Linked DNA regions of Homo sapiens: region 1 is linked to region 2. The links come from fine-mapping of genetic effects on gene expression. A gene starts in region 2. The other region holds a variant in brackets. All regions are shown on one strand. Distances are from middle to middle. Region 1 overlaps NR1D2 (nuclear receptor subfamily 1 group D member 2). Region 2 holds the start of NR1D2 (nuclear receptor subfamily 1 group D member 2).

Region 1 (5,381 bases), 33 kb after region 2:
TGCATTTAGAGTTAATCAAATTTTTCTTTTTTTGCCCTTTACTATTAAATTTTAGTCCTTGTTTTAAGTGCTTTCATGGCAAATGACCTTTTTCAGCTATCACTTATAATGGAAGACCTCCTCAATATCCTTGTAAAAAAACGAAAGGGCATGAATGGCCAGAAGTTTTGATTCCTTGTAGAAGTTAGAAATCTTTTTCTTGTTAATTACAACCTCCCATGTGGGGGACCATTGAATATTTTTGTATACTCCTGCCTCCTGTTGTAAAGGGAAAAAAATACTCTTGCTGATGAAAACATCTATGGGTGATCTACATAGGTTTGCCTGATTTTAAGATACTTTATTGCAGGCTTATGCCAAATGACTGGTTTATAAACATATTGTATGACAAATTTAATAAACACAATATGCTAAATGAAAGTGAATGTAGGGTTACATAGCAATAAAGTTGCATAGTGTATTAGTTACCTATTACTGCATAACAAATTGTCCCAAAATTCAGGGGCTTACAAATGCAAACATTTATTTAATCTCACAGTTTTTGAGGGTTAAGATATGATATGAGAGATAGGATATGATATGTGCCTCTGACTCAGGGTTTCTTAGGAGGTTATAGTTAAGCTGTGGACAGGGCTGTGGTCTCATATGAAGGCTTGAGTAGGGAAGGATCTGCTTTCAGTTGTATGTAGTTATCGGCAAGATTGAGTTCCTTGCAAGCTGTTGGACTGAGCACCTCAGTTGCTTGCTGACTGTTGGCTAGAGCCCACTCTTAGTTCCTTGCCATGTGGGCCTCTCCACAGGGTGGCTCACAGCATGGCAGCAGCTTTTCTCAGAGTAAGTGAGCAAGAGCGTACCTAAGATGGAGGCCACAGTTTCTTGTAAGCTAATCTCAGAACGGACATCCTATCAATTCTGCCATATTTTTTTTCATTAGAAGTTAGTAAGTCTAGGTCCACTTAGTAGGAGGAGGTTGCGCAAGGGTGCGAATACCAGGATGAAGGGATCATTGGAGGCCATTTTAGGGGCTGCCTACCACACATGGTGACATACAAATGGGAGTGTATTCCATATGTATTGAAAATATGTTTATATACTACATTATTTTATTTTGCTAATTAGAAGCAGTTGAAATCAGATGACATCTAATTTTAAAAAGTCAGAACCTCTATGTTCTTGTGAATAAAAATTCTTAACAGTAAAGAATTTTGATTGATCAAATGTTTTATGTGATATATATGCTTTATAATATAGTAACTAGCTAACGATTTGTTACTGAGATTTTGAGAAATTTGTCAACTTTTGCCTTTATTCAGATGTATAAAACCTTGCTTTCTATTCGTTAGTGACACTGATAAGCAAGAATTTTATTTATATTTAATGTTAATAATTTATCCTGTTTTTCCTATTTCCCTATTCCTGATCTCTCTTAGATCGATCTGGAATAGAAAACGTCAACTCTGTGGAGGCTTTGCAGGAAACTCTCATTCGTGCACTAAGGACCTTAATAATGAAAAACCATCCAAATGAGGCCTCTATTTTTACAAAACTGCTTCTAAAGTTGCCAGATCTTCGATCTTTAAACAACATGCACTCTGAGGAGCTCTTGGCCTTTAAAGTTCACCCTTAAGGCCTTTGTTTATTTAAACATGAACTGATGGTAACTGTACATTTTGTGCTAAAATGCATATTTATATGTGTATACCATATGTGGAGATAGAAAAGACCTTTAAGACAATAAAAGATTGTAGGCTATCTCTGTAATCATGCAATAGCTGTTCGGATTGAGAACTCTTCAGCCATGATTAGACGTTGACTGCATCTCCCTGATAGACCAATCAGCTGTGTCGCACTTAAACTGGAGAAGTTACACTGAAGTATAATCACACTGAATGTTAGACTTTTTCATCTGCCAAAACCAAAAACCATTTTGATCTCCCTGTGGTTATCAATATAACGCACAATCACAAGTGTATGAGGACTTAGAAATTAATCCTTTGTGGTAGGAGTTCTGTTGAATGATGGAAATCTTATTACTACCACAAGACTATTTGATCTGGTAATTGGAGACTTCGGGATTTAGGAGATCTCCATGTCTGTATTTACTCTACCACTGCTAAAGTGTGTGGTCCTGGGTAGTTTACTTGCTTGCGGAAAATGAGAATTGATGGTGTCCCCAATGCCCCACCTCACAGAGTTACTAAAAAATGTCTGTAAAGCATATTTACCTCTTGGGAGATAGGCACTATGTAAATAAGGTAAAATTTCTGTTATTACAATTATTCATAATAATATTCTTTTCTTATTTCTAAGCCTTTCTGGGAAATCATTTCAGTCCACACCAACCATATTATTCAGGGTTCCTGCCATATGTGTGGGGTATCCTACTGATACACACGTATTCAAAGTTTATGGGTACAACAAAGACATAGTACATGTACATAATATGTATGTGAATATAGTTAAATATATTTCTTCACAATATTTTAAACTGTGAAGAACTTTATCATACAGGAAACTTAAAACAAGAGGTGTCAAAAGACCCAAATTAGGTGCATTTTACTTGTTTATGATGGCATAACCATTGCTTTAAAATGTTTAGACAGTAGAATATTGAATTTATGCTCTATTTTTGTTTATTTAAGCAACACTTAATGTAAAAGTGCAACAGGCAATTGAATCCAAATTTCAACGA[CA/C]AAAAAAAAAAACATGTATTTTAGAGTTCATCTTTGGCAAAATCTTTGGTTCAGGGTACTAGTTGTTTAAAAGTTGATTCATATTCTTACCTTGTGCTGAGAAAGGTTGCATTGCTGCCCCTTATACACATGCTGCAGCTTGATGTTAAAGAATTTTTATTCTTTCTGAAGAACTAATTAATGTTTAAAGCAACTGTTTAATATGATGGCATGTGTGTGTGTGCGTGCGTGTGTATGTTCTGAGTCCACTTCTTTTTTCCTAAATAACACTACAGGGATTTTGTCATATTAGATTTAATTTATAATTTGAAAAATCATCTAGTGTGTGACCTACAGGCTTAGAAATGGTATAGTCAAAGACATTTTATCCACATTTCTAATAGTGGACTTGATTAAGTAGATAAGATCAGCATCTGTTTATGGTAGTAGGAGAAATAGCCAAAGTTGAGGATTTTATGTATGTTTTCCTGTTTACCTGGAAAATAGCAATTAATTGGATTTTTTGGTAAAGATTGCCTTCTGTATAATGTTTGGATTATATAAAATTGCAAAAATGATAACAGCCCGCTTTACTGTACTAAGCCTGTTACTTTCATGACGTGTGAGCAGAATGCCTTATTTTGTAATCTTGTTTAACTTGTTGCTACTGGGACTTGATTTACTGTGGCACTAGTTAAGTAAGTTAAAAAAAAGTTAAACCCTCTCATTATTAAAGAGGAAAGGCGATGGTGATGTCTGTAGTACAATATAAACCATAATTGTGATTTACCTTAAGTAGGTATAACTCTTATGGGATATACAGTATAGTTTTTGTGAATCTTTACATGATAGCATTATCTTTTTATAATTTTTTTTCCTAAGATAAACAAATGCATAGTTTTCTTCTATGGGTGATAGAAACAGCTTTTTGAAGTAATGAAAACCTCAAAAGATCATGTTGATTCTTAATTTTTGCCTTTTGCATAAGCCTCTTTATAACATGTATCTTTAAAACAATTAAGTCTTTAGGAATGTGTAACCAGAACTATGTTAGTATTGCTTATAAAACTTTAGTTAGGTTCAATATATACATATATACATCTCTATATAGGTATATAGATTTGCATTTTGTCTTGTAAAATTTTATTTGAATAAATTCTTCCTGTAGGTAATGGGAAACAAAATTAATAGTTCATATGTCACTCATAGCATTTCTATATTTGAAAGTAGCCCAATATAAAACTTTTGATTCTAAAATTAAACCAGCAGCCTATTACAAGCACATTCTTTGATTGAGTCATTGGTTATAAACTTACTAAATGCAGAGAAAGCAGCCAATTTAGGAAACTTCTGAGTTGGTGGGACACTGTTGATTAATAATGTACTGTATGAATTAAGTGATGCTTTAACTTTGATTTTACATTTTAAAGTTAAAATGTGGGCATTATGTCAGCAAACTTAAGGGCATTATGTCAGCAAGCTAAAACATTTTTTTTCCTGTGCTTTTAATGTATCTCTTTACATGATCTGAGAGAGGATTCAAGTTGATAGAAATAGCTGAGGGGAAAAGGGGGAACATCTTGGGATGAAGCTTGTCCTTATGGTGATGGTTTAATTACAGATTAAAAAATTAGAAGGAAATTTCAGTGGATTAAGTGTATAGCTTTCATATCTACATTTCAAGAAATTACCATTGTAACTTGATAAGAGATGATTTATTTTATGTAAACATCTTTGCAAAGCAAGGTGTAGCAGCTCAGCTAGATTTATTACTGTGCACGAAAGTAAATACCTATCTCAATTATTCTTTTTCTTTTCCAATATAAAGTTTGCTGAATGTACAAGAAGAGTTTATCACTTAGGATATAGAATTTTTTTAGGGGTTGGGGGAGGGGATCTGTTAGGAAACTGTTACCTATAAACAAAGATTGACTGGATTCGATCCAAAAGATAAAACTTGAAGCTATTCTGGAACTAACATGGAAAAATGAAATGGCTATTGTTTAAAAAAATGATAGAAATACATTGTTGATGGGATATGAGTTAAGTTTATTTTCTACAAACTGTAATTGATGAGGACATGGATAATATCTTCATGTTTCTGAGAAGTAATCTGTATGTGGGGGGAGGGGATAATAAATATTTCTAACCAACTGTGGTGTTTGGTGTCTAATCTACCTTGCCTTTTTTGTAAAACTAATAATTTAACTCACTACAAGTATCTTTCCCCTGAGCATAGCAGGATGTTTTATGTAAATCTCTGATTCAGCATGGGGAAATGTGTGTATATGTATATATGTGTGTGTGTGTATATACACACATATATATGTATATGTGTATATATGTATGTGTATATATATATATGTATATATACATGCACACACACACACAGGGCTTAAAAAAAGATTTTAGAGTTGAGATTCTGGCAAGGACTGTTGCTATTTTCTATAATGCCAACTGAGTAATGGTTCGTTGTGTCTAATAAGGTAGTCTTTCTAGGTAGGAGATGTGAGAGAGGAATGGGGTACTTGATATAACCAGAAATCACCCTTGGCCATGAATGGAGTGCACCTCAGCAAGACCACTAGCTTCTTTTTCTTTTCCTATCAGTTGTTCCCATGTTGGCAAAATTAAGATAGCTACTTAAATCTCCATTGTTTGCAGTAATATTGTTAGGCAATCTTGGGGGTGTTGCTTTTCTAGCTGGAA
Region 2 (5,381 bases):
GCATCAGCCTCTTGAGTAGCTGGGACTACAGTTGCACACCACCAAACCCGGCTAATTTTTGTATTTTTTGTAGAGATGGAGTTTCGCCATATCGCCCAGGCTAGTCTCCGATTCTCCAATACCTGGGCTCATTGATCCTTCCACATCAGTCTCCCAAAGTGCTGGGATTACAGGTGTGAGCCACTGCGCCCTGCCAGGGCTCACTCTTGACGTTGTAGGTTCTAGTTTTGACAAATGTGTAAAAACATATATTCACCATTATAGTATCATACAGAATACTTTCCCTGCCCTAAAAATCCTCTGTGCTCTATTCATCCCTCCTTCCCCTCTAGCCTTTAGTAACCACTGATCTTTCTACTGTCTCCAGTTTTGCCTTTTCTTCCTTTTTTTGAGACAGAGTTTTGCTCTTTTTGCCCAGGCTGGAGTGCAATGGCGCGATCTCGGCTCACCGCAACTTCCGCCTTCCGGGTTCAAGCGATTCTCCTGCCTCAGCCTCCCGAGTAGCTGGGATTACAGGCATGCGCCACCACCCCGGCTAATTTTGTATTTTTAGTAGAGATGGGGTTTCTCCATGTTGGTCAGGCTGGTCTTGAACTCCTGACCTCAGGTGATCCACCCGCCTTGGCCTCCCAAAGTGCTGGGATTACAGGCGTCAGCCCCCGCGCCCAGCCCAGTTTTGCCTTTTCTAGAATGTCGTATAGTTGGAATCATACAGTACACAGCCTTTTTAGAGTGGTATCCTCTTTTATGATTTCTTTTCTGCCTTCTAGACTGTTCATATTAACCTCATTTTACCTGTGTAGAAGTAGATGGTAGTTGATACATGAAAAAGCAAGCAAGCTACAAAGCGTGGCCTGGGGAACTCTTCCATCAGCATCACATGAGGGTGATAAATTCCAGAAGTAGGGAAGAATAGAGGGCTACCGTGATTAGGGAACTGTGTTTAGAAGGGTTTGGGTATCAAGACAGCCTTGGAAAGAGAAGCAGGACCCACATCTGTGCAGGGCGAAGCAGGTCAGGTTAAGTCGTTGAATTTTTTCAAAGTGTAACACGAAGCCATTGGAGGGTTTTCAGCAGAGTAATCAGATCTTATTTACATTTTAAAAATAATACTTTGACTGCTGGGGAGAAGTGACTGTAGGAGGACCCAAGAAGCACTCTCCTAGTTAGGGAACCAGAGCAGTAGCTGAGGCAAGAGATAATGGTTTGCTCTAGCAATACCAACGGTGAGAAACAGGGATTGAACATATTTTGAAGGTAGAATAGCTCAGACTTGCTAATGGATTGAATGGAGAATAAAAGGCTGTGAGAGTGTTAGGAGAGAAACATAATTTTGCTGGCTTCAGGAACTTGCAGATTTACCAAAACAGTAAATATTGATATGGTGAAGAAACCTGGGGGGTGGGGAAATAGGGTGTTGCACATGTAAATATGTCTTCCACGTGACATTTTCCCCACCTTCTATAGTGAAGAATTTCAGAGCAAACTGGAAAGAGTTTTACAAGCAACACCCATATCCCCATCGCCTAAGTTTAACATCTTACCATATCATCTATTCATGCCTCTATCAGCCCATCTTACTTCAGTAATGCGTTTAAATTGCGGGCATCAATGCACTTTCCTCAGAATTCACCTCAGCACGCATACAATTTATGTCTAGCTTTTTTCTTTTGATCTAAAATTTACATTCAAGGTGAAACGCCCAGATCTTGACTGCACATTAGCTGAGTTCGGACACACGCGTACACCCGTCTAAAATCTGAGATGCAAAAAAGCGGCATAATCAAACGGGCTGCTGGATGTAGGAATCTGGAGATTAGAAGAGAGGTCTTGGCTTGAAATATAAATCTGGGAATCACAAGAACATAGGTCTACTTAAGCTATGAGATTGGATAAAATCACCTAGAGGGTGCAGAGGGAAAGGGAAGGGTCTGTGCCCTCAGAGACCAGCGTTTGGAGGTCGGTCGGGTGGGAGCGGGGGGTGGGGGTGGGGGGCGCAAGGGTTGAGCAAGCCCGAACCAGCCGGCCCAGCCGGGGTCCTGAGAATCACCCTTGCTCGGCGCCAAGCCACCGCTTTGACCTAAGAGCCACCAGGTTGGGGGGCAGGGCGTGGAGAGGACTCCCGGCCAGAGGCGGGAAAGGCAGCCGGGAGGAGAGGAAAGAGGAGGAGGAGGGGAGGAATATGCGGCGGAGGGAAACGGAGAAGAGGTTTACGGCACGGAGGGGAAAAACGAAGGAAGAGGAGGGGCTCGGCAAGGAGAAGGAAGGGGAGAAGGGGGAAGCGCAGGAGAAAAGGGTAGCCGGGGAGCCGGGAAGCGGGCGGGAGGGAGGGGAGCGGCGGGGCGGAGGTCGCCGCAGCGGCCGGCCGAGGGCGGGCGGAGGGAGGGGGTGTGTGCGCGGGTCACATGGTCGCGGCTGCCCTCCCCGTCAGCCGCCCTCGCCGCCGCGGTGCGCTGGCTGCAGGAAGCCGCCGCGCCGCCGCTTTTGTTGTCAGGGACCCAGCGAGGAGCGCCGCTCGCCGGCCGCCGCCACCCTCTCTCGCTGCAGCCTGCTGTGCGCTGCACGGCCTGGGGCCCGGGAGCCCCGCCCGCTCTGCCCATGAGGGGGCCCCGCGACCACCGCTGCTTCCAGCCCGGGGCGGCGCGGCGCTGAGGCGGCGGCGGCGGCGCTGCCCCCTCTGCGGGAAGCGGGCGGCCCCGGCCGCCTCCGCGAGGGCACCATGGAGGTGAATGCAGGTAAGAACCGGACTGCGGCGGGTGGGGGATGGCCGGAGGGAGCGCTCAGAGCCCGCGGGGCACTTTGGGGGGCGGCGGCAGGGGGTGTCCCCATGGCCGGTGGGGCGGGGTGGGCTGCTGCGCGCCGCGTGTCCGCCTCTGGCTCGGTTCCCATCGCCCCCCGGGCCGCCCGGCGCCCGCCCTCTTGTCTCCCTGCAAAGCCGCAGCGCGGCCTGCCGGCGCCCGGCCCGGCCCCCCCCTCACATGGCCCGGCCGCGCGAGCCACGTGCGCGCTGTGTTTACGTTCGGCGGCGCGCGGGCGCCGGTTGGCTGGGCGGGCGCGTGACGCGGCATTACATAATGGGCGCTGAGGCGGCGGCGGCGGGCGGGGACACGTGAGGCCGCTCGGCTCCCTGACCCACATTCCCCGGGGCCGCAGGGACACGTGGGGGCGGGGGCGCGCGCGCGCGCGCTGGCTGGGAGCGCCGCAGCCTCCCGGGAGGCTCCGCCCCTTTGGAAGCCTCGGGGCAGTGACGTCGCCGCGATTCCCTCCTCCCCCGCGGGGTTGCACACTGCGGAGGAGGCCGCGCGTGCGCGCCCGCTGAGCCCCCGCGGCGGGGCGTCCCCGAAGCGGGCGCTGACACCGCAGTGCACCGGACGCCGCACGCTCTTTTCGCGAGGTGACCCCAAGGCGCGGACCCCGCGCAAACCAAACGAACCGGCGCCTGGGGAGGCTGGTAGCTGCATACCTTGCAGATTCCGAGGAGGAAGTGCAGGACGAGGGCGTGCTGCAGGCCGGAGGAGGCGCCTCGGGGAAGGCGTGGGGCTTTCCCGAAGGGATACGCTCGAAGGAGCTCTGAGGTGCTTCGATCCCGAGCGACTCCCCGCAGACTGGGTAGCACCGCCCCTGTTAGGATGCCGTCTGTTTACAAAAAAAACCGTTTGCTCTAGGACGCGACCTGTCTCATACACACACAGTCTTAAAAACTGCTTCCAGATCCCTTCGGGCTGGAGTTTTCCAGTAAACGGGTCACACCCGCAGCTGAGCGTGCAGCTCACGTATGGTCAGGATGACTCAGGTGATCATAGGTGACTCCAACACCATATGTAAGACTGGACATTCTTCATTTAAATTAAAAAAAAATTAACCTGTGGGTCGCTGACTTTTCCTGAATCTGATCAAGAGAATTTGGCTTTATAAATATTTTTCTTGTCACATTTTGTTACATTGCAACGGAACAACAGGGTGCCCTTCCCTCCTTTTGTCTGCCCCAAATGATGAGGTAGATCTGAAGTGAGTGAGGTTATGGAAACAGCCAGCTTTTGTTTTATTTTTTGAGTTGCAATGCGCCTCTAAGAATCTTGCCTCGATAACAAATGTATTGTGAACTTTTCACCAAAAGTAAAAATAAAGTCACTTTCTAATTTTATTTACGTATTTTTAGAATTTACTTATTTTTTTTAACCTGTTGTCTCACAAAAATCTGGATCTAATTGTGTTTTGATTACCTAATCGGCCTACTTAGCCTTTGAGGGTATTTTTAAAATTTTATGAGTTTATCATAGAATTAAACTTCTACATGTTAGAATTCAGAGGTGATCAGGGTGAACCTCTTCTAACCCACCCTTTAGCATGAATTCTAATAGCTTTAGTAACCTCATAAGGGCTGGCTCAATTAGGAAGTTTTTCTCTGGTTTGAGCCCTCTTCCAATACTTCGCTGATCTAAATCTTGCCTCGTGGAGCAAGGCACATTATAAAAATTCCTCCGGATGAATGTTGACCATCCCCTTCCCCCTTCAGTTCTTCCATTTACAGTTCTCATCTCTTTGTCCTTGCCCAGCATTGTTTTTTCTGATCACTCATCATCCTTGTTGCCGTTTGGGATGGAGCACCCAGAAGTGAACAGGCTCTTGTGGAAGTGGTTGGATGATTATCAAGTTCCAAGTTGCCCTCTTTGTCTTGAATCCTGTTGCAAATGAATTCCCTGGCAGGCTTAGTATTTTTGGCATGTTGCTTTGCTGACTCACAGTAACCTTGCAGTCAACTAGGACCTTTCACGTGAACTATTATGAAGTTAGATTTCATTCATTGTGCAGATAATTGCATGACTTGAAGTGTAGGAATTTACAATGACCATTCTTAAAATTTCTCTCGTTCATTTGGCCTTAAGTTCAAAGCTGTTACAAGCTGTTACCCACCATGTTTACAGTTTCTGCTATCTATCAGTAAGCAGGAGGTCTAATAAGAATTGCCTTAAACTGGCCGGGCACAGTGGCTCACGCCTGTAATCCCAGCACTTTGGGAGGCTGAGCCGGGCGGATCCCCTGAGGTAAGGAGTTCGAGACCAGCCTGGCCAACATGGTGAAACCCCGTCTCTACTAAAAGGACAAAAATTAGCCGGGCGTGGTGGTGGGCTCCTGTAATCCCAGCTACTTATGAGGCTGAGCAGCAGAATAGCTTGAACCTGGGAGGTGAAGATTGCAGTGAGCCGACATCGCGCTACTGCACTCCAGCCTGGGCGACAAGAGCGAGACTCCCATCTCAAAAAAAAAAAAAAGCCTTTTAACTTTCGAATTTTTGTAAACATTGACCAAGGTGGGGCCAGATTCAGCGCTGTGTGGCACACCTCTACCCTTCCCTCTAGTTTGGTTATCAGTTGACAAAC

The links. PIP is the estimated chance that this variant, and not a neighbour inherited with it, causes the effect. A credible set is the group of variants that fine-mapping cannot tell apart.
Region 1: its variant is the best candidate, but not a certain one, in a credible set for the expression of NR1D2 in monocytes after interferon gamma (Fairfax 2014, PIP 0.78).

The regions. Positions count from the first base shown.
Region 1 is chr3:23,975,793-23,981,173 of GRCh38, forward strand. NR1D2 (nuclear receptor subfamily 1 group D member 2) reads left to right here. Exons shown (of 8, transcript NM_005126.5): 8 at 1,431-4,825. The coding sequence ends at 1,627. Among named protein-coding and RNA genes, the nearest start is that of NR1D2, 33 kb to the left of the region's middle. The variant CA/C (reference allele first, on the strand shown) is at 2,693.
Region 2 is chr3:23,942,860-23,948,240 of GRCh38, forward strand. NR1D2 (nuclear receptor subfamily 1 group D member 2) reads left to right here and starts at 2,427. Exons shown (of 8, transcript NM_005126.5): 1 at 2,427-2,735. The coding sequence starts at 2,720. It overlaps LOC124909354 (a long non-coding RNA gene), which reads right to left and starts at 2,321. Exons shown (of 2, transcript XR_007095845.1): 1 at 796-2,321; 2 at 1-221. It also overlaps a transcript of NKIRAS1 not described here. RefSeq lists silencers at 2,291-3,480, 2,977-3,518.